Homo sapiens: one gene and its partners. Changing the gene in region 2 together with the main gene of any one other region gives a genetic interaction. Each region holds a gene or a part of one and is shown on either strand. Other genes may lie near its edges. The genes, in order: PRKCA, ATM and ATR.

The links.
Region 1: changes in ATM (region 2) and PRKCA are lethal when combined (synthetic lethality), as found in Homo sapiens cells (one study listed by BioGRID).
Region 3: changes in ATM (region 2) and ATR are lethal when combined (synthetic lethality), as found in Homo sapiens cells (one study listed by BioGRID).

Annotation. Positions count from the first base shown.
Region 1 is NC_000017.11:66,730,476-66,741,947, forward strand, and holds part of PRKCA (protein kinase C alpha type), read left to right. Parts: intron 1-2,212; coding exon 2,213-2,350; intron 2,351-5,013; coding exon 5,014-5,187; intron 5,188-8,288; coding exon 8,289-8,380; intron 8,381-11,183; coding exon 11,184-11,246; intron 11,247-11,472. UniProt on the Homo sapiens protein: Calcium-activated, phospholipid- and diacylglycerol (DAG)-dependent serine/threonine-protein kinase that is involved in positive and negative regulation of cell proliferation, apoptosis, differentiation, migration and adhesion, tumorigenesis, cardiac hypertrophy, angiogenesis, platelet function and inflammation, by directly phosphorylating targets such as RAF1, BCL2, CSPG4, TNNT2/CTNT, or activating signaling cascade involving MAPK1/3 (ERK1/2) and RAP1GAP.
Region 2 is NC_000011.10:108,322,060-108,331,194, forward strand, and holds part of ATM (serine-protein kinase ATM), read left to right. Parts: intron 1-3,250; coding exon 3,251-3,485; intron 3,486-3,998; coding exon 3,999-4,166; intron 4,167-5,585; coding exon 5,586-5,699; intron 5,700-6,961; coding exon 6,962-7,179; intron 7,180-8,154; coding exon 8,155-8,362; intron 8,363-9,135.
Region 3 is NC_000003.12:142,447,327-142,458,798, forward strand, and holds the end of ATR (serine/threonine-protein kinase ATR), read right to left. Parts: intron 10,430-11,472; coding exon 10,278-10,429; intron 5,908-10,277; coding exon 5,802-5,907; coding exon of another isoform or gene 5,730-5,801; exon of another isoform or gene 3,277-5,729; coding exon of another isoform or gene 3,247-3,276; exon of another isoform or gene 3,233-3,246; intron 2,277-3,232; coding exon 2,103-2,276; 3' UTR 1,909-2,102; downstream 1-1,908. Other genes in the region: XRN1 (5'-3' exoribonuclease 1), read right to left, coding at 544-618. UniProt on the Homo sapiens protein: Serine/threonine protein kinase which activates checkpoint signaling upon genotoxic stresses such as ionizing radiation (IR), ultraviolet light (UV), or DNA replication stalling, thereby acting as a DNA damage sensor.

The DNA of each region.
Region 1 (11,472 bases), on a different chromosome or scaffold from region 2:
ATTATTCATGAGTTTTCTGGGAAAGGGGCAGGGAATTCCTGGAACTGAGGATTCCCCTTTCACACCATGTAGGGTAACTTCCACATATTGCCATGACATTTGTAAACTGTCTTGGTGCTGGCGGGAGTTTCCTATAGCATGCCAATGTATTATAATTAGCATACGATGAGCAGCCAGGAGACCTGAGACTGCTTTCATTGCCTTGTTGATTTTGGCGGGTTTTGGCTGGCTTTGCCACAGACTGTTGTATTAGGGGTTCTTTGTGACCTGTATCTTGTGAAACCAGTCCTGCTGAATTCCTGTATCAGCAGGGGCTCCTCCTGCAAATGCAGAGGCTCCCCAAGAGAGCACAAGGGGGCTCAATCAGTACTTGTGGGATGAAGGCATGGTGGTGCTCCAAGAGGGACGACGGATGATTCCTCGGAAGCCTTCTCTGCTGCTGATCCATAGTAAAGCCCCTTGAGTGCCTTCCTTATCTCCTTCACCATCATCTTGGTAACCACCAAGGTGTTGACTGGAGTGAGTTCCTGGAAAGAGCTCCAGAGCTAAGGTCTGCTGCACTAGGGAGGGAGGTGCACCCTCTCATTAAGAATGGGCAGGCGTGGTGGCTCATGCCTGTAATCCCAGCACTTTGGGAGGCCGAGGTGGGCGGATCACCTGAGGTCAGGAGTTCGAGACCAGGCTGCCCAACATGGCGAAACCCCATCTCTACTAAACATACAAAAAAATTAGCCATGCATGGTGGCGAATCCCAGCTACTCAAGAGGCTGAGGCAGGAGAATCGCTTGAACCTGGGAGGCGGAGGTTGCAGTGAGCTGAGATCGCGCCACTGCACTGCGCTTCAGCCTGGGCAACAAGAGCAAAACTCCGTCTCAGAAAAAAAAAAAAAAAAAAAGAATGTATCCAAGGCAAGAATCATTGCCCTAGGGCTCAGGGATGTGGCTGTGGAGGTCTAGCCAGGGACCAGGGTCCTGGACCTGTCAGCAGCTGACGCTTCTTACAACTAGCTCCTTCCCGTCAGGCAGATGTTCAAAATTCGGAGTCTTGTGCTGGGAGACTCAGCCCACTCCAGGCTTCTCCAGGGCTCCTTCGGTGACAGTGAGACTTCCCGTGGGTTTACTGACCTTCCTTTTTCTGCTGAGCCCTTTTACCTTTTGCCTTTGACATGGACTCTGAGGCCCTGGTGAGAGTCGTGAGGGCAGGGCCCCCTCTAGAGCTTCTAAAAACTCCTCTGGTAGCTCGCCCACCAGGCAGTGACCAGATATTCTTCAGGCGCAAAGGGCGCCTTGTGCTCCCTTTCTTTTTTTTTTTTTTTTTTTTTTTTTTTGAGACAGAGTCTTGCTCTGTCGCCAGGCTGGAGTGCAATGGCGCGATCTCAGCTCACTGCAACCTCCGCCCCCCGCCCCCCGGTTCAAGCGATTCTCCTGCCTCAGCCTCCCACGTAGCTGGGATTACAGGCACGCACCACCATGCCCAGCTGATTTTTGTATTTTTGGTAGAGACGGGGTTTCACCATGTTGGCCAGGCTGGTCTCAAACTCCAGACCTCAGGTGATCCACCCGCCTCGGCCTCCCAGAGTGCTGGGATCTCTTCTTATGCACATCACCATGTCTTTTTGTGAGTTCAACTCTTGATTTAAAAGAAAAAAAAAATCAAAAAAAAAAAAACAACCCAACCCCTGTTCTTACTGTGCATTTGAAAATAGCGATGAATCATCCCAATGGCTTTGCCATTTTAAGCAGTTCCTCTCCAGAGAACATTTTCCTCCCTTTTGGTGTGGGTACAAGTTTTCCTTTATGCAGATTAATTTTAAATTGGAAAATCTACAAATACAAAAAGCATCAGTACACAGTTTATTTCCTTTATTATGTTCATGGACCCGAAGCACTGTTTTTCCCAAGAAGTCGACTTTGACATACTGGAATTACAACCAACCAGCCCTTCACGGATCCCCACGCATCAATTCTAGGTTGACTGTGTAAAGAGTTGTCTCTTAATAGGGAGAGCAGTTTTCTGCTACCTTGCTGACTTTCCCTGTAGGGTGAGTGTAGCTGCTGATATCTGAACAGGTACTCAATTCTCACCCTTTGTTCCTTTTCTCACCCCATCCCACCTCCAAGCAAACATTAAACTCAGTTACAACACGGTGGTTTCTGTCACTCTTTCCCCAGAAAAATGACCCACGTGTTTCCCATTTGTGCTTGTTATTTAGAAAGCCAAACTTGGCCCTGCTGGCAACAAAGTCATCAGTCCCTCTGAAGACAGGAAACAACCTTCCAACAACCTTGACCGAGTGAAACTCACGGACTTCAATTTCCTCATGGTGTTGGGAAAGGGGAGTTTTGGAAAGGTAAGAGGACAGTCGTCTGCAAATTGCAGGGGCTTCTGCAGAGAATGTCGAATCAGTTTTGTTCTCCTCGTAGTTTGCAGAATAGCACATTAGATTTCCCTGTGATTCAAGGTCAGGAGATCAAGACCATCCTGGCTAACACGGTGAAGCCCCATCTCTACTAAAAATACAAAAAATTAGCTGGGCATGGTGGTGGGCGCCTGTAGTCCCAGCTACTTGGGAGGCTGAGGCAGGAGAATGGCGTGAACCTGGGAGGCGGAGCTTACAGTGAGCCGAGATCGCACCACTGCACTCCAGCCTGGGAGACAGTGAGACTCCGTCTCAAAAAAAAAAAAAAAAAAAGATTTCCCTGTGATTTGTACAGTCATCCAGAAGACCACCAGGATGGCTAAATGGTAGAAAGGAGAGGTTTATTGGTGGTATCAGTTTGCAAACCCATAAAAGAAAGTCTATGGTGTGAAATGAAGGTGCCCTCTCTTTGAGGAGAGAAAGGGCAGGTTGGGTTTTATGCCTCACAGGGTCCATGTTACACAGTAGAGTCATCCATATTCAACAGGTTTGGGGGGAAAGCTTGACTTATCTGTGAGGGAAGCCTAGCACAGGCACAATGGATGAACATATATGTAACATGCATCTTATGTTCACTTTGGGGTGGGGACTTAGCATTAAAATGAGGTGGAATTTGCCTAGGCATGGTGGCTCATGCCTGTAATCCCAGTACTTTGGGAGGCCAAGGCAGGTGGACCACTTGAGGTCAGGAGTTTGAGACCAGCCTGGCAAAAATGGTGAAACCCCATCTCTACTAAAAATACAAAAATTAGCTGGGTGTGGTGGTGTGCACCTGTGATCCCAGCTACTCGGGAAGCTGAGGCAGGAGAATCGCTGGAACCTGGGAGGTGGAGGTTGCAGTAAGCCAAGATCATGCCACTGCACTCCAGCCTGGGCAACAGAGGGAGACTCCGTCTCAAAAAAAGTAAATAAATAAAAAAAGGTGGAAGTTGGCTCTTTAGATCAAAAGGTGAACCACAGGACCCAAAAACAGTTTGTGTGCAGGCTCTGCAAGCTGCTGAAACTGGCTTCAGGTCTGCAGTTGCATCACAGAAAAGAATGTTTGTAAGGCCAGTTCTCTGTCCAGTCCAAGTCATAGTGATCTGAGTTGTCAATCAAAGTTAGGAGGGGCCTGATAGCTCCTACTGCTAGGGAGTTTAGCGAGAGTGGTTTATCTTGTAGCTGTAGGGATTTAGAAATTTGCCATGCCAGCTGGGCCCTGAACCCTCAACCCATAGATAACTATTTCCTTAACTTTAATGTTACCAGAAAGGGGTCCTGATCCAGACCCCAAGAGGAGGGTTCTTGGACCTCAAGCAAGAAAGAATTCAGAGCGAGTCCACAGAATAAAGTGAAAGTCAGTTTGTTAGAGAAGTAAAGAAATGAAAGAACAGCTACTCCATAGGCAGAGCAGCAGCATGGGCTGCTTGACTGAGTATACTTAGAGGTATTTCTTGATCGTATGCTAAACAAGGGTTTTATTATTCATGAGTTTTCTGGGAAAGGGGTGGGCAATTCCCAGAACTGAGGCTTCCTCCATCTTTTAGACTATATAAGGTAACTTCTGGGCATTGCCATGGCATTTGTAAACTGTTGGGGTGCTGGTGGGAGTGTCTTTTCACATGCTAATAATGCATATAATGAGCAATGAGGGTAGCCAGAGGTTATTCTCATCGCCATCTTGGATTTGGTGCGTTTTGGCTGGCTTCTTTACTGTATCCTGTTTTATCAGCAGGGTCTTTCTGACCTGTGTCTTGTGATACTAGCCCTGCTGACCTCCTATCTCATCCTGCGACTAAGAATGCCTGACCTCCTGGGAATGCGGCCCAGCAGATCTCAGCCTTATTTTTCCCATCCCTTATTCAAGATGGAGTCACTCTGGTTCAAATGCCTGCGACATTAGGGTCCATCTTAGTCGCTAAAGAGGCATTTATTTGGTCTCTCAGATCAGAGTGCACAGTCCTCACCTGGTTTCTACTTCCTTAAAAGCAACTGCATCCAAAAAGCTATAGTGGGTTCACTGTGTTGTTACTATTTCTCAGTGTTCAGAACAGAAGGGATGCTCAGAAATGCTGGTTGATGAATAGTTTTCACAACTAAAAATTAAATGTTCACTTGTAGTAAGCAAATACAATCATTAAGAGATACTGACATGGGGTCTTCAGCAATTTGCCTGTATCTCCATTCGGTTTCTGTGGCCCCACATTTCATAGACGCAGGAACTGATTTCAAGTCTAGGTTCTTGACTTGAGAGATTATAAATGTCAGTCAGCTTTCACTCTAAGGATACTCCTGAAAAATGTGCATTATTCCAGACTAATCCTGATAGAGAATGTTGAGTATTCATTTTAGCAGCCAAAATAGTGCCATTATGTGGCAGTGGCCTATACCATTTACAAATCTTGGCAGCATTGAAGTTTTGCAAATGCTGGAGGGACTGAATTTGTAGTGATGTGTAGAATTTACAAATTTGCACATAAAGTTTAATATTTTTATGTTCCACATTGACAAAGGTGCACAAACTGTCACTGAGCCGTCACCTGGCCTGGTTCCTTCCCTCTGCCCCCCAAGATATGTGCTTACAAGTGTTCAGGTTGTTCTTGACGTGTTCTCAGGTGATGCTTGCCGACAGGAAGGGCACAGAAGAACTGTATGCAATCAAAATCCTGAAGAAGGATGTGGTGATTCAGGATGATGACGTGGAGTGCACCATGGTAGAAAAGCGAGTCTTGGCCCTGCTTGACAAACCCCCGTTCTTGACGCAGCTGCACTCCTGCTTCCAGACAGTGGTAAGGACCCTGGGAATCCCTGCGATGCAGTACCCAGCTCTCAGAGCTACGCCTCAGCCCAAAGCTTCTTAGCATCCTTGTTCCTTTGGAGAAGGCTGGAGAAAGGTGTGTTGTGATGTCAAGCAGAGGTGACTGGGGACCACCTCCCACCTCTCTCACTGGTAGATTTGGGGCATGCCTTCTCTGTGATGTCCTCTGCTTGGCATTCATGCCATTTAATTCGGCAAACATTTCTTTTTCTTTTTCTTTCTTTCTTTCTTTTTTTTTTTTTTTTTTGAGACAGGATCTCACTCTCTCGCCCAGGCTAGAGTGCAGTGGCACAGTCACGGCCCACTGCAGTCTCAAGTAGTTGAGACCACAGATGTACCCCACCACACTCAGCTAATTTTTGTATTTTTAGTAGAGACGGGGGTTTCACCATGTTTCCCAGGCTGGTCTTAAACTCCTGAGCTCAAACGATCCCCCTACGTTGGCCTCCTAAAGTGCTGGGACTACAGGTGTGAGCCACTGTGCCTGGCCTTAATTCAGCAAACATTTCCATGAAAGGTTTTCTTCATGCCTGGTACTGTGCTCAGACTTTGGGATACAAAAACAAACAAACAAAAAAACTCACAGTCTTGGCTTTTTTTTTTTGAGACGGAGTCACTCTCTCTTCCCCAGGCTGGAGTGCAATGGTGCGATCTCTGCTCAATGCAACCTCCACCTCCCAGGCTCAAGGGATTCTCCTGCCTCAGCCTCTCGAGTAGCTGGGATTACAGGCCGCTGCCACCACGCCCGGCTAATTTTTGTATTTTTAGTAGAGATGGGGTTTCACCATGTTGGCCAGGCCGGTCTTGAACTTCTGACCTCAGGTGATCCACCCGCCTCGGCCTCCCAAAGTGCTGGGATTACAGGCATGAGCCACCGCACCTGGCCACAGTCTTGGCTTTTTAAGACCACTGGTTCCACTGCCAAACATGGCATTGGAGCATAAGGAGACTTGATTTTGTAAAAGAGCATGTTCTTGTTCAATGCCACACAACAGGGACTGGCAAACTGTGGCCTATTCTCTATGGCTTGTGAGTTTAGGAAAGGTCACAACAAGGAAATCCAAAGAGTCATATATCGTGACACGTGAAAATTAGGTCAAATTTTAAATTTCAGCATCCATAAACAGCTGTTTTGGGACATCACCACACTCCTTCGTGTACCTGTCATCTACAGCTGCTTTTGCACCATGAAGGCAGAGTTGAGTTGCTGCAAGAGACACTCACAGCCTAAAATATTAATACATACTGTCTGGCCCTTTGTGGAAAAAGTTTGCTGAGCTCTGTCGTAAAGTAAAACTAAACAGAGGACAAAAAAGGACATTCCAAAGCACTAATCAGTCCGTTGCAGGGCTTGCAAGTGGCCTACAAGAAACAGACATGGCCGGGCGCGGTGGCTCACGCCTGTAATCCCAGCACTGTGGGAGGCCAAGGCGGGCAGATCACGAGATCAGGAGATCGAGACCATCCTGGCTAACACGGTGAAACCCCGTCTCTACTAAATATACAAAAAAAAAAAAAAAAATTAGCCGGGCGTGGTGGCGGGCGCCTGTAGTCCCAGCTACTCGGGAGGCTGAGGCAGGAGAATGGCGTGAACCCGGGAGGTGGAGCTTGCAGTGAGCCGAGATGGCGCCACTGCACTCCAGCCTGGGCAACAGAGCAAGACTCTGTCTTAAAAAGAAAAAAAAGAAACATAGATGTTTAGATGCCACCATAGTGAGACGTTGCCAAAGCTGGTCTTTCCACTCCTCAGAGGCTGCCCATTTAAAATATGACTCCATAATCAGTAGCTGTAATTGATGCGATTATTACTATTTTCAACTGCCCATTGATCAGAGATTGACTTTCTGTCTTATGCCTCTTTGAAAACTCTTGGGAGGAACCTCTCAGTGCTTTTGTGTTTTAGAATCTCAAAATGGCTTTGCAGCCACCCGGAGCCTCTGGGTGTGTAGCAGTGGCCGCGGAGTCAGGCGCCGGCCACTACGTGTCAGCCTAGCGCTGGCGGCACGTTGAGCTTCCTGCTCCCAGCCGTTCCCACTGACTCTGAATCAAGTCACGCCAGGGAGAGATGAGAGCAGCATGCTCGGAAGAGACAACCACAGCTCTGAATCCCAGCCCAGAGCCTGTAACCCTGGTTACCCTGATTAAGCTCTGGAAAGCTACAAAACAAAGAAATGAAGATGAAATTAAAGTTCATAACAGGAAAGCTAGAGACTGGGGCTCCCAGGGTTGCTTCCTGGCTATTAGCACCAGCTTCATCATTTTTTTCTCCCTGTGCAGCACTTTAATGTTTAATATCCTCTGTGAAATGGGGATGTTTTCTAGCAGAGAGCAGAGGTCATTATTTCACTGTTAAACCCCTCCATCTTCCTATCTGTCCCAGCATAATGTCCTCAGGAATATGCAGATTTATTTGGGTCTATGATACATGCCCATCATGGGGCCAACACTTAGCCTACCAGTGACAGAGAAAATAGAAAAACAGTGTTTGGGCATATTACAGATGCAAAAGAACATTTGATTAGCATCTCCATCTAGAGTCCCCTGTCCCATGTCCAGTAAATATATTGAGCATGTGTAATCCTAAGCCTGAGAGATGTGTTTTCAGGAGTATCCATTTAAACACGATACTACATTAGTATGGCACGCCTCCCAGACACTGCAAACCAGCCTTTAAACATTTGGACCATGGAGAAGCACTAGTTAAAATGAAATAATTGCCTTATGTGGATTCCTCACACCATCCCTTACTTAGAAATTTATTATATGTATAGGAAGATAGGGAAGAATGTTCAAGGCCGTTACTATAATAGCATATGTAACAGGAAGGCACGTTGATGGAGAGCCATTATTTCAGGGTTATGTAATGACTTTATACTTCCCAAGGCCCTCATGCAGTAGGGTTTATTACTTATTCTTTCTTTGGAAAAAAATGTGAAAGAGCTCTAAACTGAGCACATCTGCCCATGCAGTCCCCATTTAACTAATGAGAAAGCAAAACACAACCTGTGAAGAGCAAAGGAAGCCACTTGGCTGGGGAGGAGCCCTGCTCATGTGTTGAACCTTGGTCTGCAGGATCGGCTGTACTTCGTCATGGAATATGTCAACGGTGGGGACCTCATGTACCACATTCAGCAAGTAGGAAAATTTAAGGAACCACAAGCAGTGTGAGTATTATTTTTTAAGTCCTTTAATTTGAACAACCAAGTCCTACCAACTGGAAACTTCCTTTTTTCCCCCCCGCTTGAGATTGGGGGTCTCACTCTGTCACTCAGGCTTTGCCTCCCAGGCTCGGGTGATTCTCCCACCTCAGCCTCCTGAGTAGCTGGGACTACAGGCACACACCACCATGCCTGGCTAATTTTCTGTTTTTGGTAGAGATGGGGTTTCACCATCTTGCCCAGGCTGGTCCCGAACTCCTGAGCTCAAGCTGTCTGCCCACCTCGGCCTCCCAAAGTGCGGGGATTACAGGCGTGAGTGAGCCACCATGCCCAGCCCCAACTGGGAACTTCTGCTGGGTGAAATGGGAAAGTGGGATTCTGCCCAGTTTTAGGTTGAATGTTATAAACCTAAACATGGGAGGCGGAGGGCAGATATACTGGTAGGATCCATCTAAGATGGTTCCTAAGGAGCAGTTTATTCTATTTCCAGTATTTCCAATAAACTGGAGATGTTGCCATATCCCATCATCACCCAGGTCCACCCTTGTTGATGGAGTTATTCTTATCTGTTGAACAAATGGTTATCACACACCTGCTCTGCACCAGGCACTGGGGTTGCGAAAGGAACGAGGTGCTCCCTTTCCAGAGGGAGTTTACACTCCACCCTGGAGGTGGAGAAGTCACCTAACAATTAATAGTGCGTTGCTGTAACTTTAGAGACTTGCGCAGGATACCAGGATAACACGTAAGCCCCTAAAAATCGGGGAGAGGGAAGTGCAACCCCACGAAATGACCGGCTCAGAGGTGGGGGAAGAGCCTTCCAGGAAGAGATGTGAACAGAGGCAGAAGCAAGTCCAGGGAAGCAGCCTTGCAGCTCAGCAGGTGTGGGAGATGCTGTGAGATTATTTGAGGGGCGGGGGAAGGGGGGAACGTGGTAGGTGGGGCTCTGGGTGAAGAGCCTGGTAAGGAGCCTGGCTGTGGAGGAGGGAAGAGGGAAGGCACTGCAGTGGGGCTTGCACCATCAGATTCAGTTTTTGCAGAGCTCTCTGGGGGAAGAAGGAAGCATGAAAGGAAATGGTAGAGGCTGGTGCAGGCGCTGGTGAGACCCTTTATAGATAAGAAGGAATGGAGCTGTAGTTAGGGCTAGACCTTGGAGCCAAAGAGGAATAAGTGTCTTTGAAAAACACCCTGGAGGAAGAAAAGCAGAACTTATTGACTATGGAGGAGAGAAGAGATAAACCTCTTCCAGTGAGACCCCATTTCAGGCTTGGGTCGGGGCAGCCACCAAGGAGGAGGTGGTTTGAGGGGGGAGATTCATGAGCTCAGTTAAGAACGTTTTATTGGAACGCACCTGCATGATGGGATGCGGGAGTCGGCAGCACAGGAGGAAGACGTGGGCTCCAGGTGAAGATGAGAGATTCATCTGAGGGGTGTGGGGAGCTGGAACTTTGGTGCTGGAAAACATCATCTCACCTCTCAGGGGCCAGGAAGTCTCAGGAAACACCAGTGGAGCAAGCCTAAACAAAGGGCGAGTTTAGTTCCGCAGTGAGGAAACCTCGGGGGCATGTACCCTGATGAATGAAGTCAGCACCTGTTAATAGGATTCTGGCTGCTGTGCCATCTAAGAGACACATTGGAAGAATTTTTGGCCTGCGAGGGATTATGCACCCTAGGGAAGATTAACTGAAGGCAGAATAGGGAAATCTTTGGTTGCAAGCTTTAAAAGTGTGAAGGGGGATTTTTCTGCCTTTATTGATTGTTCCTTTTCAGTTTTCAGAAATGCCTGTCCTTTTCTTCTGTCTTATGTTGTAGTTATAAAGCCTTAAAATACTCAGATTGTAAAATAAAGCTTGGTCACACAGGACTGTAAAGAGCAGATAGCAGAGTCACCCTATGTTATAAAGTAACATAAAGGTGTCTGGTCCAATATCCTTTCATTATATTATTTGTGTTGCAGAAAAGTTTAGAAAAGCATGAAAAATAATGTAAAGATCACCTGTAGTAATCCCATCTCTTCACCCTCCCCCTTTCTGTACTCTTCTAGCCTTCAGAGGTGGCCCCTCGTTAAGGGTTTGGTCTTGATCATTAGAGATTTTTTTTCCTCTCTGCTCGTGTAGACACGTGTGCTTATTTTGAGCCTCCTGCATGTGATATTTCCACAGGCACAGTCTTGTGGCTTCTTCGACTTCAAAGACTCCTGAATGCTATGCAGATTTTTAAATATTCGCCTCCTTTTAATCTGAGTTTCAGCTATTAATGTATTAACAATTTTGAAGTGATGGTAGTTACTGCTTTTTATTATGAATTATTTAAAAGAGTAAACTCAGATATGAATCTCTCCAACACTCGCAAGGAATGAAAACACTAGCTAAAGAGTTCATCACCCACTATACTTTGCCTTCCAGGGAGTAATTGTATTGTATTTTCAAACACCAGTGTATTCTGCCAGTGAATAGGAAAATGGAAATTTTCTTTACGCCATACTCCTGATATAGAATAGTCTAACTGGTATCCACTCTTTAAATGATTGTATGAGAAATTACTCTGCAGGCAATAAGCTACTTGTCCACCTTCCCCATAAGAGAATAAGAAGCCGGTTTCATTGGTTTTATTAGCTGTCTCATTCACGGATAAGCTGGAGGACGAAGTGATGGAGGGAGGACCGGGGGTTGGAAGAACACGATGCTGGTCTCTGAGAGCCTCTGGGTCTGACATTCTTTTCTCTCTTTGATGCTTGAATTTGAGAATGTAAAGTATACAGGCATCTAAGGAAGCAAGTGAGAAACCTGAAGCCCGTTTTCTTTTGCAGATTCTATGCGGCAGAGATTTCCATCGGATTGTTCTTTCTTCATAAAAGAGGAATCATTTATAGGTGTGTATTGAAGCCCTCCTACCAGCAGCTCAGCAGAGAGGTTAGCTGGGCCTCTGTGGGCATGTCATTCTGGAATGGTGACTTAAGACACAGAGTTGATAACTCCCCAGGAGGAACAGAGACCTGCTGGGACCCACCTTCCTCCTCACCCTGGAGGCAAATCAGAGCCACCTTCTGATTTCTAGACCGCAAAGACTTTATATCTTGTTTCTACTTTTTCCACAAG
Region 2 (9,135 bases):
TCTCTGCCTTGCTAAACTAGAAGCTCCCTTAAAAGTGGGAACCATTCTATTGTTTATTGTTGTATACCTAGTGTTTTTGTTTTGTTTTCTTTTTTTTCTTTTTATGTTTTTTTGAGACCAAGTCTCGCTCTGTTGCCCAGGCTGGAGTGTCATGGTATAATCTCAGCTCACTGCAGTCTCCACCTCCCAGGTTCAAGCGATTCTCCTGCCTCAGCCTCCCGAGTAGCTGGGATTATAGGTGCCCCGACAATGCCTGGCTAATTTTTCTACTTTTAATAGAGACGGGGTTTCGCCTTGTTGGTCAGCCTGGCCTCGAACTCCTGACCTCAGGTGATCCACCCGCTTCAGCCTCCCAAAGTGCTGGGATTGCAGGCGTTAGCCACCATGCCCGGCCCCCAATGTTTTCTCTTCTGGTGACTGATAATTATGTTTAGTAAACATTCAGTGGATAGTGGATGTCAGTTAATTTGTAAAAGGTGTTCAGAAGGAATTGCTTCTTATAATGGTGAGAGGGAAATGATCCAGGGATTTTGGAAGATGAAATAGTATAGTTACTCAGGATGCTGTAGATCTAAATTCTTTCCTTTTATCAAGATATAAGTTGATTAGCCCTAGAGAATTGTGCTTTTATTAAACATTTTCCAAAATAGTCACTGTAAAAATTCAAGTTTAAAAAATTCAGCTTAAAAGTGCTTTTCTCTTTATAACTTTTTCCCTGGCCCACCCAGATAAAATTGTTTCCTCATGTTTTTGCACAGCATGTTACACTCCATTCGGTTTTAGCACTGCATTGCATTACTGTCATTTTATCTCTGCCTTGCTACTAGATAAAAGAAGTGGAAGAGTTGTGTAAGGGCAGCCTTGAGTCTGGCAGGATGACAAAGTAAAGTGTTTTGGGTCCTCAGTTTCCTCATTTCTAAAGTCAGGGATTTGTATTCGATGGTCTCTAAAGCCCCTTTTAGCCCTGCTATTTTGAATTACTATTATTATTATACGAGGGAAGAAAGAGGATATAAATGACTAAGGTCACTCTACCTTTATGCAAAAATAAAATTTGGAATATGTTTTGGAAGTAGAAAAGAGAAGGAAATTTTAGAGTCAGAAGAAAATAATAATAGTTTTTTCAAAATGACATAGCAGAAGACATACATATTAATGTGGCTTAGGAGGAAAATAAAGGAACAAAAGTCTTTTCTGCTTTCATTCATAAGTACATTGGCAGTACTTACTGCCAGAAATCAAGAAATTTTTCCTCTGAATGAAAGATTATCCTGCTGAAAAGAGTACAGAATTCTTTAAGAAACAGTGAATAGAATGGTAGTAACCAGAGGCAGGGAAGGGTGTTGTGGAGGGAGAGGATGAAGAGGGGCTGGTTAATGAGTGAAAAAACACAGGTAAATAGAAGAAATAAGATCTAGTGTTTGATAGCACAATAGGGCAACTGTAGTTAACAGTAATTTACTGTATATTTTTAAATAGCTACAAAAGAAGATTTGGAATGTTTCCAACACAAATGATAAATGTTTGAGATCATGGATATCTCAATTACCCAAATTTGATCATTACACATTGTATGCTTGTATCAAAATATCACACGTACCTCATAAATATGTACAACTATTATGTATCCATAAAAATTAAAAATAAATTTTAAAAAGAAACACCTAAAGAATAATCTGGCTGTTTCTTTGGTAGAGAAATAGGAAGAAGAGAAGCAGAGGGAAGGTTGGATGAACTGGTGCACAAATGCTTATGCTCTCAGATTACATTCCATTCATATACATCAACCAAAACATTAAATAATAACAAACTAAATGCAGAAGCAGAGATAAGAATTCATCTCGTTCTGTTAATCCAGACATTAAAGAGATTTGCAAAAATGCAAAACAGTGCCATGCTCACTAAGTTTTGTTTTGTTTTGGGAAGTATACAGTTGAAATTCTTTATCTACAGGTTTCCATCTATGGATTCAACCAACCGCAGATCAAAAATATTTGAAAAAAAAATTTTAAAGAATAGGGTATAACACTTATTTACATAGCATTTACATTATAGTAGGTATAATATGTAATTAGAGATTTATGTATAACCTGTGCACATTCTCCTATTACACGTAATCTAGAGGTTATGTGTAATACTTTTTGGAAATGTTTAATAAAAGCACAATCTAGAGGTTACGTGTAATAGGAAAATGCCCTGCCATTTTAAATAAGGGACTTTGAACATCAGCATTATCAAGGTGTCTTGGAACCAATTTTCTGCAGATACAGAGAAACTACTGTAGTTATTTTTCCTAAAAATTGTTATTTATGATATATAGTAGATTTATTATTTTTGAATAAATTAATACATTTTAGATTTTTCTCAGTCTTTCTAATATGATATCATATCTAATATCAGTAGATATGGTCCAACGATCGAAAGTTCTTTGGGGTCTTCAATAATTTGTTTGATTGTAAAGGAGTTCCGCAAAAAGTTTGAGACCTGCTGTGGTAGGGTCATTTAGAGAGGAATTGAAGTTTTGGTTCCTAGCATTTTTGTTACTGTTCCTTCCCTATCAAGCAACTAAAAGAGCTTTCATTTCTTAGTCATCACTTTGTCATCTTACTCTCCCTGCTTCCTCTTTCTTATTTCTTTCAATAAATGTCCCTGAAGGATTGGGTAGTATTTCATAGTTCAGTTATTTGGGAAGGATACTATTCATATAAACTAATTGTGCAATATGCCTTTTCTGTTCCTTTAATAATGTTGGTAAATGAAACCTTTGCCAGATGCCAGCTTTTCCTTCACTGGATTGTGATTTTTTTGACAGCTATAATTATGCATCAAGTCATCCCCAGTAGGGGGTCCCTCATTTCCTTGCTGACATGTCCTCATTACTACAGGCAGTATTGAAGCAGGACTAAAGATGGAGGCATTCTTTATGATAGGTCTGATGAATATGTTCTTGTTTCAGAAGAGTATTTAGAAGGGCTGCTTTTTGTAATGTCAGAGTATTAAAAATTTTTTTTGATGTTTGTCATCTGTGACCTCTCTGCTAATAACTCTTAAGAGCTCTGACCGCATAGCATTTTGTAGTTTTCTAAATTTTGATCCATATGTAGGATTATTTACAAGTTCTAGTCTTGTCACTACAAAAGTTCCTTTGTATTATTATAATATTATATCGTAAGTTCCAGAACTTACATAGTTTTTTTTTTTTTTTTTTTCATTTCTCTTGCTTACATGAACTCTATGTCGTGGCATTCAGATCAGTCACACATAGACAACTCTCTGAAGTATATATTAAGTGGCAGAAACACTCCCAGCTTCTCAAGGACAGTGATTTTAGTTTTCAGGAGCCTATCATGGCTCTACGCACAGTCATTTTGGAGATCCTGATGGAAAAGGAAATGGACAACTCACAAAGAGAATGTATTAAGGACATTCTCACCAAACACCTTGTAGAACTCTCTATACTGGCCAGAACTTTCAAGAACACTCAGGTAAATACAATTTAAAACTATGTCATCTTACCTCTTGACTTTCCTTTTATTATTTAAAAAACAGAAAGCCTGAGGGAAAAAGAAATGTCATTAAGAGATAGAGATCTCTATTAATATATAGTAAAAATAATTGTTTAAGAGTTCCCATTTTGGAATTAGATCTGACTTTTAAGCCTTGGGCAAGGGTACTTAATCTTTTCTCAACCTCAATTTCCTGGTTATAAAATGAGAAGATACGTAACTTACTATATTGATAACAATTCAGTGATTTTATATACTGTGTGTATGTACACACAGATACACATACATACATATAGAGAGAGACAGACAGACAGACAGATAGGCAGACGTGGGGTGGGGAGATGTCATGCAGACAGAGAGGTCCTTAAGATAGTCCCTGACAAGTAGTTAAGTCCTCAATGAATGGTAGTTGCTGCTTTCATTATTATTATTATTCATGGTAGTAGTATCAGTAGTAAAAGTATTTATTCCCATATGTCATTTTCATTTCAGCTCCCTGAAAGGGCAATATTTCAAATTAAACAGTACAATTCAGTTAGCTGTGGAGTCTCTGAGTGGCAGCTGGAAGAAGCACAAGTATTCTGGGCAAAAAAGGAGCAGAGTCTTGCCCTGAGTATTCTCAAGCAAATGATCAAGAAGTTGGATGCCAGCTGTGCAGCGGTTTGTTTTTTTTATTGGCTGGATTAGTGTTTTACTGTTATTTAAAAAAACACAAATGTACTTTAAAATATTTTTAATAACAATTTTATTAGAGCCTTGAAATTAGTAATTTATTAACAAGATATTGTAAAACTAGTCTTGAAAATTAATTTGTAAATGAAGTTTAGAAACTTTTTCCTATATATCACAATTCTATCAGTCCATCATGTGGTCGATTCATTTAATATATCCCAGTATTAAGCCTTTAACTTCCTATAGAATTCAAGAAAGGTATGTGGGAAATGAATGAAATAGCTACTCTAAATTTGAAATGACAAGTGAAAAAAGGGAAGAGGAAATGAATGAGAGAACTAAATTAGAAAATAAAAGCAAGTTGGGACAATTAGGTTGTCAATCCAAATGCTTTGAAAATATCACATCTAATATTTTATCTAACATTACCTGTTGGTTTTTGCAAACTTATGTTGCTACTTCAGCTGTAAACCCAGCATACACACTGGATAAAGTAGAGGCATTGGTGTCCCCAAGGTTTGTCTACAGTGGTGTCCCACAGACATGTACCTGCTTAGTGAATATCAGCTCACTGTGCTTTATTATTTATTTATTTATTTATTTTTTGAGACGGAGTCTTGCTCTGTCACCCAGGCTGGAGTGCAGTGGTACGACATCGGCTCACCGCAACCTCCACCTCCCTGGTTCAAGCAATTCCCCTGCCTCAGCCTCCCTTGTAGCTGGGATTACAGGCACATGCCACCATGCCCAGCTAATTTTTTTGTATTTTTAGTAGAGATGGGGTTTCACCATGTTGGCAAGACTGGTCTCGAACTCCTGAGCTCAGGCAATCTACCCGCCTTGTCCTCTGAAAGTGCTGGGATTACAGGCGTGAGCCACCACGCCCGGCCTTTACTGTACTTTTTGATGTTGGGCACTCATTGTATAGCATCTTCTGTTATTAGAGAAATCATTATACCAAAGCACTGAGTGCCAATATGATATGTGTAAATATTGCTTAATAGTATTGGCCCTGAAGTATGTGCTGTCTGGAGTTACCCAACTTCCTTGTACCTCAGTTTTCTAATCTGCAAATTGGGGTAATAATAGTACTTATTTAATAGGATTCTTGTGAGAATTAAATGAGTTAATATATATAAAGCCTTTACAAAGTGTCTGACATATATAAGTACTCAATAAATGTGACTTGCTCCAATAATGGCAATAATAATAATAAACAGAGGATGATCATTTCCTACATGGGATTATTAAAATAGTTGTATGGCAAAAGCAGATGAGGAAAAACTTTTTTTTTCCCACCCACCAAGGAAAAACATTTTTAACCTGCTTTTTTCCCCGTACATGAAGGGCAGTTGGGTACAGTCATGGTAATGCATTATATTTTAAGATTTTGCCTTTCTTATACAGAACAATCCCAGCCTAAAACTTACATACACAGAATGTCTGAGGGTTTGTGGCAACTGGTTAGCAGAAACGTGCTTAGAAAATCCTGCGGTCATCATGCAGACCTATCTAGAAAAGGTAAGATTTTTGGAGCAACCCTTAAGATAGTTACTTAGCATGAATATGCTTCATCTTTTCATCAAGATCAATATATTTCCAAAGCAAATAAAAGTATGGTTTTATTTTTCTATATATTATTACTGTTGTAGCTCTGTATAGTCTCTAGGGTGGAGTGAAACATTGTTACAAAACAAAGCAGCCAATTTTGAAAGTAAGCCCAAGTATAGTATCTCTTCTTCCTCCTTCCTACCTCCACTACCAGCTACCCTTTCAGCAGGTTGCTTCTGATCATTTCTTCATTTATGCATCTACAAAAATAACTGATTAAGAATAGGCAAGTCAGCCCTTGCTCTTCATTAGCCCAGCCACCCACAAGTAAAGGCTTCAATATACTAGCCCCTTTGACTTTCCTGTTTCTCCCTCTTATTCCTTTAGATTCACTAATTTTGGAAATAGTTACCTCACTAAATAAGTGTAACATGAAACACATGATGCGATTGTCTTTCTTTTCTTTTCTTTTCTTTGAGATGAAGTCTCTCTCTGTCGCCCAAGCTGGAGTGCAGTGGCGCAATCTCGGCTCACTGCAACCTCTGCCTCCTGGGTTCAAGCGATTCTCCTGCCTCAGCTTCCCAAGTAGCTGGGACTACAGGAGTGTGCCACCACACCCGGCTAATATTTTTTATTTTTAGTAGAGACGGTTTCGCCACATTGGCCAGTCTGGTCTCGAACTCCTGACCTCAAGTGATCCACCTGCCTCGGCCTCCCAAAGTGCTGGCATTACAGGCTTGAGCCACCACACCCAGCCTGATTGTCTTTAAATTTTATAAAGTTCTCTGTTTTTGCAGAGTTCTTTACAAGTATTAGCTGTCTGGGTTATTTCTACACTGTCAAAGTTGTTTTGAAAAGTCAAGAAAATACCATAGTTCAGGGCTGTCCAATCTTTTGGCTTCCCTGGGCCACATTGCAAGAAGAATTGCCTTGGGCCACACATAAAATATACTAACATTAATGATAGCTAATGAGCTTAAAAAAAATCACAAAAGAAATCTCATAATGTTTTAAGAAAATGTACGAATTTGTGTTGGGCCACATTCAAAGCCGTCCTGGGCCACATGCGGCCCATGGGCCGTGGGTTGGACAAGTTTGCAATAGTTCATATAATTTAGCTAGCTTTTATATGTATATAAGTTAAATTTTAGTGTATTACCTTAATTTGAGTGATTCTTTAGATGTATTTAGTATTTGTAAATATAATTTAAATTGGTTGTGTTTTCTTGAAGGCAGTAGAAGTTGCTGGAAATTATGATGGAGAAAGTAGTGATGAGCTAAGAAATGGAAAAATGAAGGCATTTCTCTCATTAGCCCGGTTTTCAGATACTCAATACCAAAGAATTGAAAACTACATGAAATCATCGGAATTTGAAAACAAGCAAGCTCTCCTGAAAAGAGCCAAAGAGGAAGTAGGTCTCCTTAGGGAACATAAAATTCAGACAAACAGGTAACTAGGTTTCTACAAGTGACAATTTTATGTTCACCAGTTAACTGAGTGAGTGTTTTTGCATAGAAAGAGTGACTTGGTCTTTTTATCTGATATAGTTTTGAGCTCTAAAGGTCGGCTTAACTATATATAGATTATCTTGGTCTTTTGGGTTCTTTTCGGTTTTTGTTTTTTGTTTTTTTTTTTGAGACAAGGTCTCACTCTGTCACCCAGGCTGGAGTACAGTGGCGTGATCACTGTACTCCAGCTCACTGCAACCTCGACCTCCTGGACTCAATTGATTCTCCCCCTGAGCCCCCGAAATAGCTGGGGCTACAGGTGCACGCCATACCTGGCTAATTTTTGTATTTTTTGTAGAGATGGGGTTTTGCCATGTTGCCCAGGTTGGTCTCAAACTCATGGGCTCAAACGATCTGCCCACCTTGGCCGCCCAAAGTGCTGGGATTACAGGTGTGAGGCACTGTGCCCTGTCTGTCTTGGTCCTACTGTAGTTAATCACAAATTAGTATGTAAGATATTGACGTGTTCTTTTGTGAATAATTCATGCTCTGCTTCTAAGTTCATTGTGGAGAATATAGATATTAGCTTTCTGTTTTGCTTTTTTGGTTTGTTTGTTGGTATCATAGTGGAAAAGGAGATAGATATTGAAATTAATTACAAAAGTTACCTATTTTGATGTAATTAAATCCCTTTATTTAAGCCTGTCTTGAATCTGTATATTTTAGTGTAAGCAGAGGTGTAAGTTAGCTAAATAGCTTGGGGAGAGTCCCCTTTGTCCTTTGATGCTTAGGAAGGTGTGTGAATTGCACAGTTAAGACAAAAGTAAGTTTATTCCCTTTATAATCCTTAGAAGTTTGCTTTTTTCCCTGGGATAAAAACCCAACTTTTTTCATTAAATGTTGTATATCATGTGTGATTTTGTAGTTCTGTTAAAGTTCATGGCTTTTGTGTTTTACCTTAATTATTCTATGCAAGATACACAGTAAAGGTTCAGCGAGAGCTGGAGTTGGATGAATTAGCCCTGCGTGCACTGAAAGAGGATCGTAAACGCTTCTTATGTAAAGCAGTTGAAAATTATATCAACTGCTTATTAAGTGGAGAAGAACATGATATGTGGGTATTCCGACTTTGTTCCCTCTGGCTTGAAAATTCTGGAGTTTCTGAAGTCAATGGCATGATGAAGGCAAGTGTTACTCAGCCCAATATTCTACCCTGTGCTTGAAAAACTTAGACATAAGCCCCTTGATGTCAGGAATCGTGTATACCTCTTTGTATTCCTAGCACTTGGTCCAGTGCTCTACACATAAGTAGCATTTTGTAGTTTTCTAAACTTTGATCCATATTTAGGATTATTTACAAGTTCTAGTCTTGTTTCTACAAAAGTTCCTTTGTATTATATAAGCTGACAAGCTGTAAATGATGCAAGTTTGTGTGGAGGTGATAGAATTTAGCTTGGTCCTATGTCTTTGCAGTTACCATAGGAGAGGGTCTAGAATGGGGCATTAGATTGGAGGATTTAGAAAGCAGTTAAAGATGATGTGATCACAGGTGGGTTTTCCCCCTGCTGCAGAAATATGGGATTTTTACAATAAATTACTTTTGTAAGTAGAGAAAATATATTTTTCAGAAAATGTCAAGACAGCAGTATTGTATAAGTTTTTCTTTGAAAACCTTAGATTATAGTGATGACACCTAATATTAAATTTAAGTTGACAAGCTATATATTGTTAGTCAATTTGAAGGTTAGAGATAAAATGTTTCTCCTGCAGGAAAATAATAAGACTCATAATAGATACAGTCAATCTCTGCTGTAGTATACACTAAATATTACTTTTGGCCTATGGGGAAAAGCAATTACTTCATTTTATTGTACACTGACTTCTCAGGAATCAAGATCACAGTCACACTCAGATCACATTTGTCTTCCTTAGATTTTTTGGAATATAAACAGTACCA
Region 3 (11,472 bases), on a different chromosome or scaffold from region 2:
TAACAAAAGGCATCACCAATATGACCATCAGCCACGTCGGAAAGTCTAGGCTCCGGGGGCCGGGTGGGCCGCGCTCTAGATCAGGGAAAGTAAACAAGGTGACTGCGTGCGGAAGCGGCTGTTATCGTCTGTAAGTGGGTCTGCCGCTCTGGGTGGGATGGGGGAACCTACGAGGACACCCACTCCAGCTTCGCAGCCTCTGTAAGGAAAAAGGCAACTTGCAGCTCCCCGGGAGGAAACCGGAGAACAGTAAAAGCGTTCTTTCCCAGGACTTCATTTCGGAGTCGCGGAAGGACCAGCAGAAGCAAGAGCTGTCAGAGAAGCCGTGAACCCAGCGGCTCTGTCCACACACAGGCAACCTGCGTCCTTAGCCCCTTTCGGCTCATCCGGGCGTCCTCAAACCTTCCGTCCCCCTCCCTAATGCCACTAATCGTCCAGACGACGAGGGGAAAGAGGTGGCTCGAAAGCCCCAGCTCTAAGGTGGAGAGGGCCGCGGAGCCCCGGGTCCTCGGCTTTCTGAGCCGTTGCCCCTCGCTCACCCACCTGATGCTCTTTCACCACTTCGCTGAGACAGGGATACCGCTCTGAGATCCATCTGTAAAACTTGGGGACTCCCATTTCGATCGTCAACACTAATCCCAGTCAGGGCCAAACCGAAACCAAACGCCCCGCCGGGGCTCCGCCGCAGCCTCCGGTCGTCGCTCCGCGGATGACAACACACCGCCCGGCCGACCATAGAGAGCGCCCGGCGGGCCTAGAGCGGCAGGATCCGAGGCCGTCCGAGGGGCGGGGCTTAGCCCTCCGGGCCTCGCGCGGCCGGGGCCGCGGTACTGTCCAGTGGCGGTCAGGGAATCTGCGGAGGTTTGCTGGTGTGTTGCAACTTAGGGGCGAAAATGCCCCATGATAGAGTTGTGCTTTCTAAGTGGATTTGGAAGTGGCATGAAAACCGTACGAAGGTGTGGGAAGGGTATCGAACACTGATTTTTGTTCCGCTTGTCTCCTAGGGTTGCTAATCTCAGTATTTTTCATTCAGATTTCGAAAGATCTGGTGATTTACTTGGCTTAGTTTGTTGTTTTGTCAATAATTTTTTTTCTCTGAGGAATTTAAACTTACGTTTCTTAATACATACGTTTAAAAACGTTCTTTTCCAAATTGTTCAAAAAAATTTCCCATGTACCCGCCCCCCGCAACTGTTAACATAAGACCTTGGATACGAAATCATTTAATGTTTAGTTTTGACATTCTTGCATCCGGGTTTATCATATTTTTCCCCATCACACTTTCAACCGCACAGCAAAGGAGAGTTCTATCAACTTAAGTGAAATTATCAGTTTTAAATGTAAGAGTTTTCCACTTATTTGAATGTATTAACCCGTTACTTTGTATTTAAGTCTTCTGGATGAAAACTTACAGAAAAACCTTAAACATTTAATACTTTTTGGATTTTAAGATCTCAGGAAATGTTAAGTATCGCTGTCTTTCATGACCACTGGATTCTGCATTCTGGGACTGCAGTATGGCAGCATCACACAAATTACAGAATGTTTATTTCGTTTTCACATTCACGCTTCTTGGCTTATATTTTTTCCCTATCACACTTTAAAACAAAGTTTTATTAAGTGAACTTAATGATATGCTATTTATATTTATATATCTCTCTTACTAGACTGTCACTTCCTGGAGGGCAGGAGAGGGTAGCTCTATGCACAAGTCTGGCACAACGCCTTGCCCACAGTATTTATTCCATATAATTTTGTTCTTCAAGTGAATCCTTACAATAGCTAGGACTTTTAAAAGGAAATCAATAGAAGTTGTAAAATGAAATTAGACTTGCTTGTTTCTTGCAAATATAGTTTTTGACCATAAGAACACATGATATTCTATTTCTCCAATTATAATGCACAGTATGTATTAAGAAAGCAGTTTATTTCTTAATAACTGAATGTATATTATTTTACATATAATTAATGATCAGAGAGAAATAACAGTTGCTGAGAACGTAAATTTATGTTGTACTTTAGAATTGAACAGATACAACCACAGATTCATACCAAATGCATTACTTTTAGATTATTAACATATTCTTTTACATAATTTCATTTCACATATATGGAGTCCAACCAAGATACATCTGGCATAGTAAGTTTTCATCAGTAGCTTCCTGTATAAGGTAATGCACATGTCCTTCAATAGATAACGGCAGTCCTGTCACTCTATTTCGAGTCTTGATTACACCTTGTAGTCGCTGCTCAATGTCAAGAACATGGGTCTTGGCCTAAAAAGAAGAAACATAAAACCAAAAACAGATGTTAATAATTTGGAATTACTACCTTTCTTTATATTTTGACATTTAATAAATGTTAATACCATTTTACTGACCAATACCCCTTTTGTAAGAGCAAATACAGGAAAAGAAGAAATTAAACAAATACAGTTAGCTTGTGATACTGATTTGGAGGCTCGCAAGATTGATTCAACATCAACTGCTTGGACATGTTTCTGGACTACGTGAAATACCAGGGAATTATTTACACATTACAATTCTAGAAAAATAATTTTTTAAATCTGCTTTGGAAGTGTTTAGGACTTAAACATTTCAATGAATATTCAAATAACAATGCTGTACTGCCTAATATTTACATTATGTTAGTACATGCAAATGGGTGTTCTAAGTGAGCTACTTGGAACTGTACAATTTCTTAAGCATATCTGAATGCAAAAGGAAGAATAACGTTATTAGAAGAATAATTCTCAGAGGTGGTGCTGGGTGGGCTGGTGGGCTGCGCTGCAGCCCACGAGCACAAAGAGGAGGGCCACGGGGTGGAGACTGTTGCTGTGCCATCTGCCATCGACTTTTCCGCCAAGAGCCTGGACTCCAAATATGACTTATGTTCCAGCAGAACTCCAGGTATTAAAATAACCCCTACAACAGCCAACTTTCCCTTTTGCAGTTGCAAACCAGCTGCCGCTTATTTCTTTGGTGAAGCACTTGAGCCATGTGCGTGAACCAAACCCAGTTCATTCAAGACAGTGTTTAAGTTACTTTGCCAGACCTTTATCAAAATGGGGCTGCTGTCTTCTTTCACTTGTGACAAGTTTAGCTCATTGAGACTACATCACCACAGAGCTATTACTCACTTAATGAGGTCCACTAAAGAGAGAGTTCATCAGGATCCTTGTGAGGCTATTTCTCATATCCAGAAAATCAGATCAAGGGAAGTACCCTTTGAAGCACAAACTTCACGTTACTTAAATGAATTTGAAGAACTTGCCATCTTAGGAAAAGGTGGATATGGAAGAGTATACAAGGTCAGGAATAAATTAGATGGTCAGTATTATGCAATTTAAAAAATCCTGATTAAGGGTGCAACAAAAACACATTACATGAAAGAACTACGGGGAATGAAGGTGCTGGCAGGTCTTCAGCACCCTAATATCATTCGTTATCACACTGCGTGGACAGAACATGTTCAAGTGGTCCAACCACAAGCAGACAGAGCTTCCGTTCAGTTGCCATTTCTGGAAGTGTTCTCCGACCAAGCAGACAGATACCAATACGGTGTTAAAAATGGTGAAAATAGCAGCTCACCCATTATCTTCGCGGAGCTCACCTCAGAAAAGAAAAACCCTTTGCAGAATCTGACACTCAAAATCAGAACAACAAGCTGTGAACTACACCATCAATTCCGTCTTAAGAGACACCAGTGAATATGAATCATCCCTGGAGCTCCAGGAAAATGGCCTGGCTGGTTTGTCTACCTGGTCAATTGTGAAACAGCCCCTGCTGCTCAGGTGTAATTCCCTCCTAGAGGAGAATTTCACATCCACTGAGGAATCTTCCAAAGAAAACTTCAACTTGTTGGGGATCGAGGTGCAGTACCACCTGATGCTGCACATCCAGATGCAGGTGTGCAAGCTCCAGCTGTGGGACTGGCTAGCTGAGAGAAACAAACAGGGCCAAGAGTGTGTGGGCAAGTTTGCCTGTCCTTATGGCCAGTGTTGCAACAAAAAATTTTCAAGATTTAGTGGAAGGTGTGTTTTACATACATAACATGGGTATTGTAAACAGAGATCTGAAGCCTAGAAATATTTTTCTTCATGGCCCTGATCAGCAAGTAAAAATAGGAGACTTTGGTCTGGCTTGCCCAGACATCTTACAAAAGAACACAGACTGGACCCATAGAAACAGAAAGAGAACACCAACACCTATATCCAGAGTGGGCACTTGTCTGTATGCTTCATCCCAGCAGTTGGAAGGATCTGAGTATGATGCCAAGGGTCTCACTCTGTTGCCCAGGCTGGAGTGCAGTGGTGTCATCATAGCTCACAGCAGCCTCCAACTCCTGGGGTCAAGTGATCCTCCCACCTCAGCCTCCCAAGTAGCTGGGACTACAGGAGTGTGCCACTGAGCCCAGCTAATTAAAAAAAAACAAAAACTATTTGTAGAGACCAGGGCTGGCTTTGTCCAGTTAGATATGTATATAGCTTGAGTGTGATCCTGCTAGAGCTCTTTCAGCTGTTTAGAACAGAAATGGAGCGAGCAGAAGTTTTAACAGGTTCAAGAACTGGTCAGATATTGGAATCCCTCAGTAAAAGGTATCCAGTACAAGCCAAGTATATCTATCACTTAACGAAAAGGAACATGTCCCAGAGACCATCTGCTCTTCAACTGCTACAGAGTGAATTTTTCCACAATTCTGGAAATATTAATCTCACCCTACAGATGAAGATAATAGAGCAAGAAAAAGAAATTTTTCTTTTAGTTCTTTTAGAAGAACTAAAGAAGCAGCTAAACCTTCTTTCTCAAGACAAAGGGTTAAGGATGACATGAAGGATGGGGGCGTACAGGTCTAGCCTTCCTCGAGCTATATCAGTAGGATGAAAGTGGACTTAAACTCTTTAGGTAGTTAACTGGAATGTAAATTTTTAATCTTTATTAGCATATAGTTGGTATAATTCATTGTATTTAGTAAGCCTGTACAAGACTTATTAAAGATGTAAGAGTGCCCCCCACCAAAAAAAACGAATCCTCAATCTATTCTAACTTATTAAAAACAACTATCTGAGCTAGGCACAGTGGCTTATGCCTATAATCCCTGCATTTTGGGATGCTGAGGTGGGTGGATCACTTGAAGCCAGGGGTTCAAGACCAGCCTGGCCAACATGGTGAAACCCATCTCTACTAAAAATATAATAATTAGCCAGCTGTGGTGGTGCACGCTTATAATCCCAGCTACTTGGGAGGCTAAGGCAGGAGAACTGCTTGAACCCAGGAGGCAGAGGTTGCCGTGAGCCAAGATCGTGCCACTGTACTCCAGCCTGGATGACAGAGCGAGACTCTGTCTCAAAAACAACAACCACCACCACCACCACAACAACAACAACAAAACTATCTGCAAACTTTGCAGCTTCAACTAAGTAAGAAGTGAATTGCTGCATTTGTTAACATAGCTTGTGACATACTGGTATCATGATATTAAAGCTCAGACCTGTTGTTCTGTAAGTTCAGGCAATTTGTACTATAGTTTTTCCTACTGTATCTCATAACTGTGAATTGTCTATGGTTAAACAAGTGTGCCATGAACTTTTATTATACAAATGCGAATACTGTTAACATTACTGACAATAAAGAAAACTTATGGCATTGTGATACTAGAGAACTAGATTTCAGAGTAATCAATAGTCACTAACAGTATTTCCAAGCAGTTCTCATGCATAGAGATGAGAACTATAGCTGCATATCAAGTTCATTTGTAGAGATGAGGACTACAGCCCATATCAAGCTATACCTTCTACTAACCTTTTCATTGACAACTTCTCCAGTTTCATTCAGTGGCGCTTTGGAATGCCCTTTCACTGGTTTACTCCATTCCACAAGAGGATCATGTAGAAAAGTCTTTAAGACACTAAAATTGAAACAAATATTATGGTATGATGTTATCTTTGCAAGAAGAAATCTTGCTGACATCAATATTTAAGTGAAGGATGAGAAGCTAATGGTAATACTCTTATAATACACATTACTACGTCTTCATTAAGTTATGTGAAATTTCTGTTTTGGTGTGAGGGGAGGGTAAGAGAAGGGAAGGCAGGAAAAAAGGCAAGATAGAGGGGAGTCAGAGGTGTTTTGGAGAATAGAGTAAGATGGGTTCTATGTGCCATCTCTAAGTGTATACTGTGAACTGGTAAATGACTATATTTTGAATGAAGGAATTTTATCCCTTACCATGTCTTCAATAACGATATAACATCTATAGCTACCATATAGACCTAGCCCAGACCTTTTTTCTGCACCCTAAACATCAAATCCAATTACCTATGGGAAATACCCAGTTGGATATGTTCCAAACACCTCAAACTCAGTATCTCCAAAATAAAATTAATTACCTTTTCCCAACTATTTCTCCTGTATTCCCCAAATCATCATCCACCCATTTGCCCTAGACAAAAATCTAGGAATCATCCTCACCCCGTCTTCCTCTAACATGCAATTACAACTCCTAAATCTCTTTGGAATCTCTTCAGTTATCTCCGTCTCTACGGCCGTGACACTATCCAGTACACCATCATCCTTTCCTGGGTTACTGCAATAAACCTCTAACTAGTTTTCTGGCTGTTGGCCCAAACTAGGACCCTATTTTTTCTACAGTACAAATCAGATTATCTCTTTCCACCCCTTGCCCCCTTTTTATTCCTTCTTAAAATCCTCAATGACTTCTGGTTGCTCTGCAGGCAAAGTTATAATGTAGTAACAGGCCCCATGTGAGACCTTCATAATCTAGCCCCTGCTTACCTGTCCTGCGTCATCTCTTAGCACCACCTCCTGGAAGTATACCCTCTGGAATACATACTGTATTTCTCAGGCAGGCCATGACTTCACTTGCCTTGATATTTTTATCACTCAGAACACTCTCTTCTCCCTTGCATGGTCAACTTTATTAACTTTTAAGGTCTCAACTACTTCCTCCAGAAATTATTTCTTGACTGACCCAGACTAACACAGGGGCTCTTGGTAACTGTTCCACATGATGATATACTTCCTATTTCAGAGAATTTGCTTTTGCATATGTCCAACTAACCAGTATTCTACCATAATGTCTGATAGACAGCTTTTTTTTTTTTTTTTTTTTTTTGAGACGGAGTCTCGCTGTCGCCCAGGCTGGAGTGCAGTGGCGCAATCTCGGCTCACTGCAGGCTCCGCCCCCTGGGGTTCACGCCATTCTCCTGCCTCAGCCTCCCGAGTAGCTGGGACTACAGGCGCCCGCCACCTCGCCCGGCTAATTTTTTGTATTTTTAGTAGAGACAGGGTTTCACCGTGTTAGCCAGGATGGTCTTGATCTCCTGACCTCGTGATCCGCCCGCCTCGGCCTCCCAAAGTGCTGGGATTACAGGCGTGAGCCACCGCGCCCGGCCCGATAGACAGCTTTTAAATAATGAAGGTGAATAAATAAGCTTTAAAAGTCCTTTCAAACAATCTGTTTCCCACAGCTAACATCATACTTAAAAGTCAAAGACTGACTGCTCTACCCCTAAGATCAGGAACAAGACAAGGATGTCCACTTTTAGCATGTCTATTCGACACTGATTTAGTTAGGGCAAGTAGGCAAGAAAAAGAAATAAAAGGCATTGATATTAAAAAGGAAGAAGAAAAACTGTATCTGCAGGTGACATGTTATTGTGGAGAGAAAATCTTAAGGAAGGCACAAAAATAATTATTAGAACTAATACATGAATTCAGCAGATTGTAAGATACAATATCAATATATAAATATCAATTATATATCTATGCACTAGCAATGAACAATCCAAAAATGAAATTAAGAAAAATTCCATTTAGAATAAAATCAAAAGGAATAAAATACTTAGGAATACAATTTTTAAAAGTTAAATATAAAACTTGACCCTAAAAACCACAAAACATTGATGAAAAAAATAAAATTCAAATAAATGGAAAAACATTCTATGTTCATCGATCAGAAGACTTAACATGGTTAAGACAGCAATACTCCCAAATTGTTAAGACAGCAATACTCCCTAATTGATTTACAAATTCAATGTCCTTCCTATCAAAATCCAAGCTGATTTTAAAATTAATATGGAAATACAAGGGACCCATAATAGCTAAATGATCTTGGGGGAAAAAAAGCAAAGTTGGAACACTCACACTTTATGATTTCAAAATTTACTACAAAGGTACAACAATCAAAACACTGTGTTGTTAGCATAAGGTTAGGCATATAGATCAACAGAATATTGCTGAAAATCAATTGACCATTTCAACAAAAAAGCCAAGATAATTAAACGAGGGGCAAAATATTCTTTTCAAAAAATGGTGCTGTGACTAATGGATATGCACATGCAAAAAAATGAATATGGACCCCTACCTTACACCATATCTACAAAATAACTGAAGACAGATAAAAGATTTAAATAGCAGAGCTAAAAGTCAAAAATGCTTAGAAGAACACATAGGTGTAAATCTTCATGACTTTGGATTAGGGAATAGTTTCTTAGATATGACAACAGAAACACCAAAAATAACCAGAAGAAAAAAACAAATTAGACTGCATCAAAATTTAAAACTTTTATGTTTCAAAGGCCATCATCAAAGAAAGTGAAGAGACAACCCACAGATGGAAGAAAATATTTGAAAATCATATCTTAAAAGGTCTTGTATCCAAAATGTGTAAAGAACTCTTGCAACTTGGCTGGGCGGGGTGGCTCATGCCTGTAATCCCAGCACTTTGGGAGGCTGAGGAAGGTGGATGGCTTGAGCTTACGAGTTCAAGACCAGTCTGGGCAACATGGCAAAACCCCTTCTCTGCTGGGGAGGCTGAGGCAGGGAAATCACTTGAACCCACGAAGCGGAGGTTGCAGTGAGTGGAGATCACGTTACTGCACTCCAGCCTGGGCGACTCTGTCTCAAACAAAGAAACAAACTCTTGCAACTCAAGAATAGGCCAGGCATGGTGGCTCATGCCTATAATCCCAGCACTTTGGGAGGCCAAGGTGGGAGGATCACTTGAGGTCAGGAGTTCAAGACCAGCCTGGCCAACGTGGTAAAACCCAATCTCTACTAAAAATGCAAGAATCAGCCAGACATAGTGGCTCATGCACACATGCTGTCCCAGCTACTTAGGAAGCTGAGGCACGAGAATCGTTTGAACCCAGGAGGCAGATGTTGCAGTGAGCCAAGATCACGCCACTGCACTCCAGACTGGGTGACAGAGCGAAACCCTGTCTCAAAGGAAAAAAAAAAAGAATAAAAAAACCCAATTTAAAAGTGGGCAAAGGATTTCAATAGACATTTGTCCAAAGATGATCTACAAATGGCCAACAAAGACATGAAAAGATGCTCACCATCACTGGTCATTAGGGAAGTGCAAATTAAAACCACAATGAGATACAACTTCACATCCCTAGAATGGCTAAAATAAAAAAGGCAGACAATAACCAGGATAGATAAAGATGTTATCTAAAGATAGAAAAGATGCAGAGAAGTTGAAACCCACATACATTACTAGTGGGATTATAAAGTGTTACAACTGCTTTGGAAAATGATTTGAGAGTTCTTCAAAATGTTAAGTACAGCATTTAACATATGACCCAGCAATTCCACTCCCAGGTATACACAAGAGAACTGAAAACATATGTCCACATAAAACTTGTGCACAATGTTCACAGCCACACTATTTATAATACACAAAAGGTGGAAACAATCCAAATGTCTCTTAACTGATGAACAGAAAAAGAAAATGTAGTATATCCATATAACAGGATACCATTTGGCAATAAAAAACAATGAAGTACTGATACATGATGAACACTGAAAATATTACATTAAGTGAAAGAAGACAAACACAAAAGGCCACATATTAGATGATTCCATTTATATGAAATGTCCTGAATAGGTAAATCCATAGAGACAGAAAATATTATAAATGAGTGGTTACAAGTAGATAGCAGGGGTGGGAGGGGGAAGGGATCAGGAGTGACTGCTAATGCCTACGGAATTTCTTTTTGGGCTGATGAAAATGTTTTAAAATTAGATAGTGGTAATGGATGCACAATCTTGTGAATATACTAAAAACCACTGAATTATGTACTTTTAAAGGGGTGAATTTATGGTATATAAATTATATCTGCATAAAGCTATTATTTAAAAAAACTATTTCAGTCAGTACAAAGTGGTTTCTACATAAAAACAAACATATGTAGGGGCCAATAATTATATTCGAGGTTACTGTTAAATTATTTACAAAGTATAGGTGATTACCTCATTAAAGGCTCTCGCTGATCACGCATCAGCCTCATTGTAACTTCACATGCTCTTCGAAAAAGACCCTCTGTTCCCATAGGACCCATTCCATTAACCATATTATGAGTCAGGCGAAATGGCACAATTTCTGGAACTTCAAAGGTTTCTCCCTTAGAAACAATACATTTTATTACAAACTAACAATGTTAGAATTTAAAAATCTTTACTCAAAGAACTTCATGTCCAGATTCTTTTAGCAAAAAGCAAAAATACCCTCAAAATATTTATGTTGTAATTACTTTAGAAGTTTGTAACATGAAGGAGCCATGTAGCTCTGCCTTTGCTTTTACAGAACTGAAACCATACTTGATCTTGGATAAGATCTAGGAGATAAGTGGACTTACCTTTCACTGAGTTTAGTACAGTGAATAAGCAGTATTACAGAGAAATTTTATGCATTCAATATTTAGTCTCATATTAACTTCTTTAATGTCTTTCTTGAATAATATGAAATACAAATATTCTCATATATTTCTACTTTTCTTTAACACTTTCATCTTAAAACAACAGAAGCAGCCAAGGGTCAGATGCTCACATCCCCTCATAAAGGAAATAAAACATGTCATATAATGAAGTCCAGTTGTTCATTTTCTGCTGTCCTCTAATCTGCCTTTTCTAGGGACCTTTCATCCCTTGTCCAATCAGTTACCCTAAATTCCTCTCTTGTATGGTTTAACCCATGCCAGTATTTTATCTCTGATTTGTTCTCAGTTGGATCTATGATCTTTCTTGGTTTCTTGTGACAGCACAAGGCAACCTGTAGATGATGGAGGTGAAGAAAATAGTGCGCTAACCTACCAGTCTGCCCTGCAGGATTATAATATTGGAAAATTGTAGGGGGCCTTAAAGATGGGTCCAATTGCCTCAATTTATTCCCAGGTCCCACTCTGGACCTACAGAATCTGAATCTCCTGGGTATCTATAAATTTTTTTTTAATTCTTGGATAATTCTGATATGTTGCTAGAATTGGAAACTATCGTATTAAACTACTCTGTCTCTCTAAAACTGAGTCTCAGTAAAATGAACTGATCTGCCCTTATTCACATAACTAATAACTAATTGAGTCAGAACCTAAACCTATGCTCTTGGACTTCAAATTCAGTACTAGCTTTACAGTATCACTCTTCTAAGTTCTCTCCATCCTAATACGCA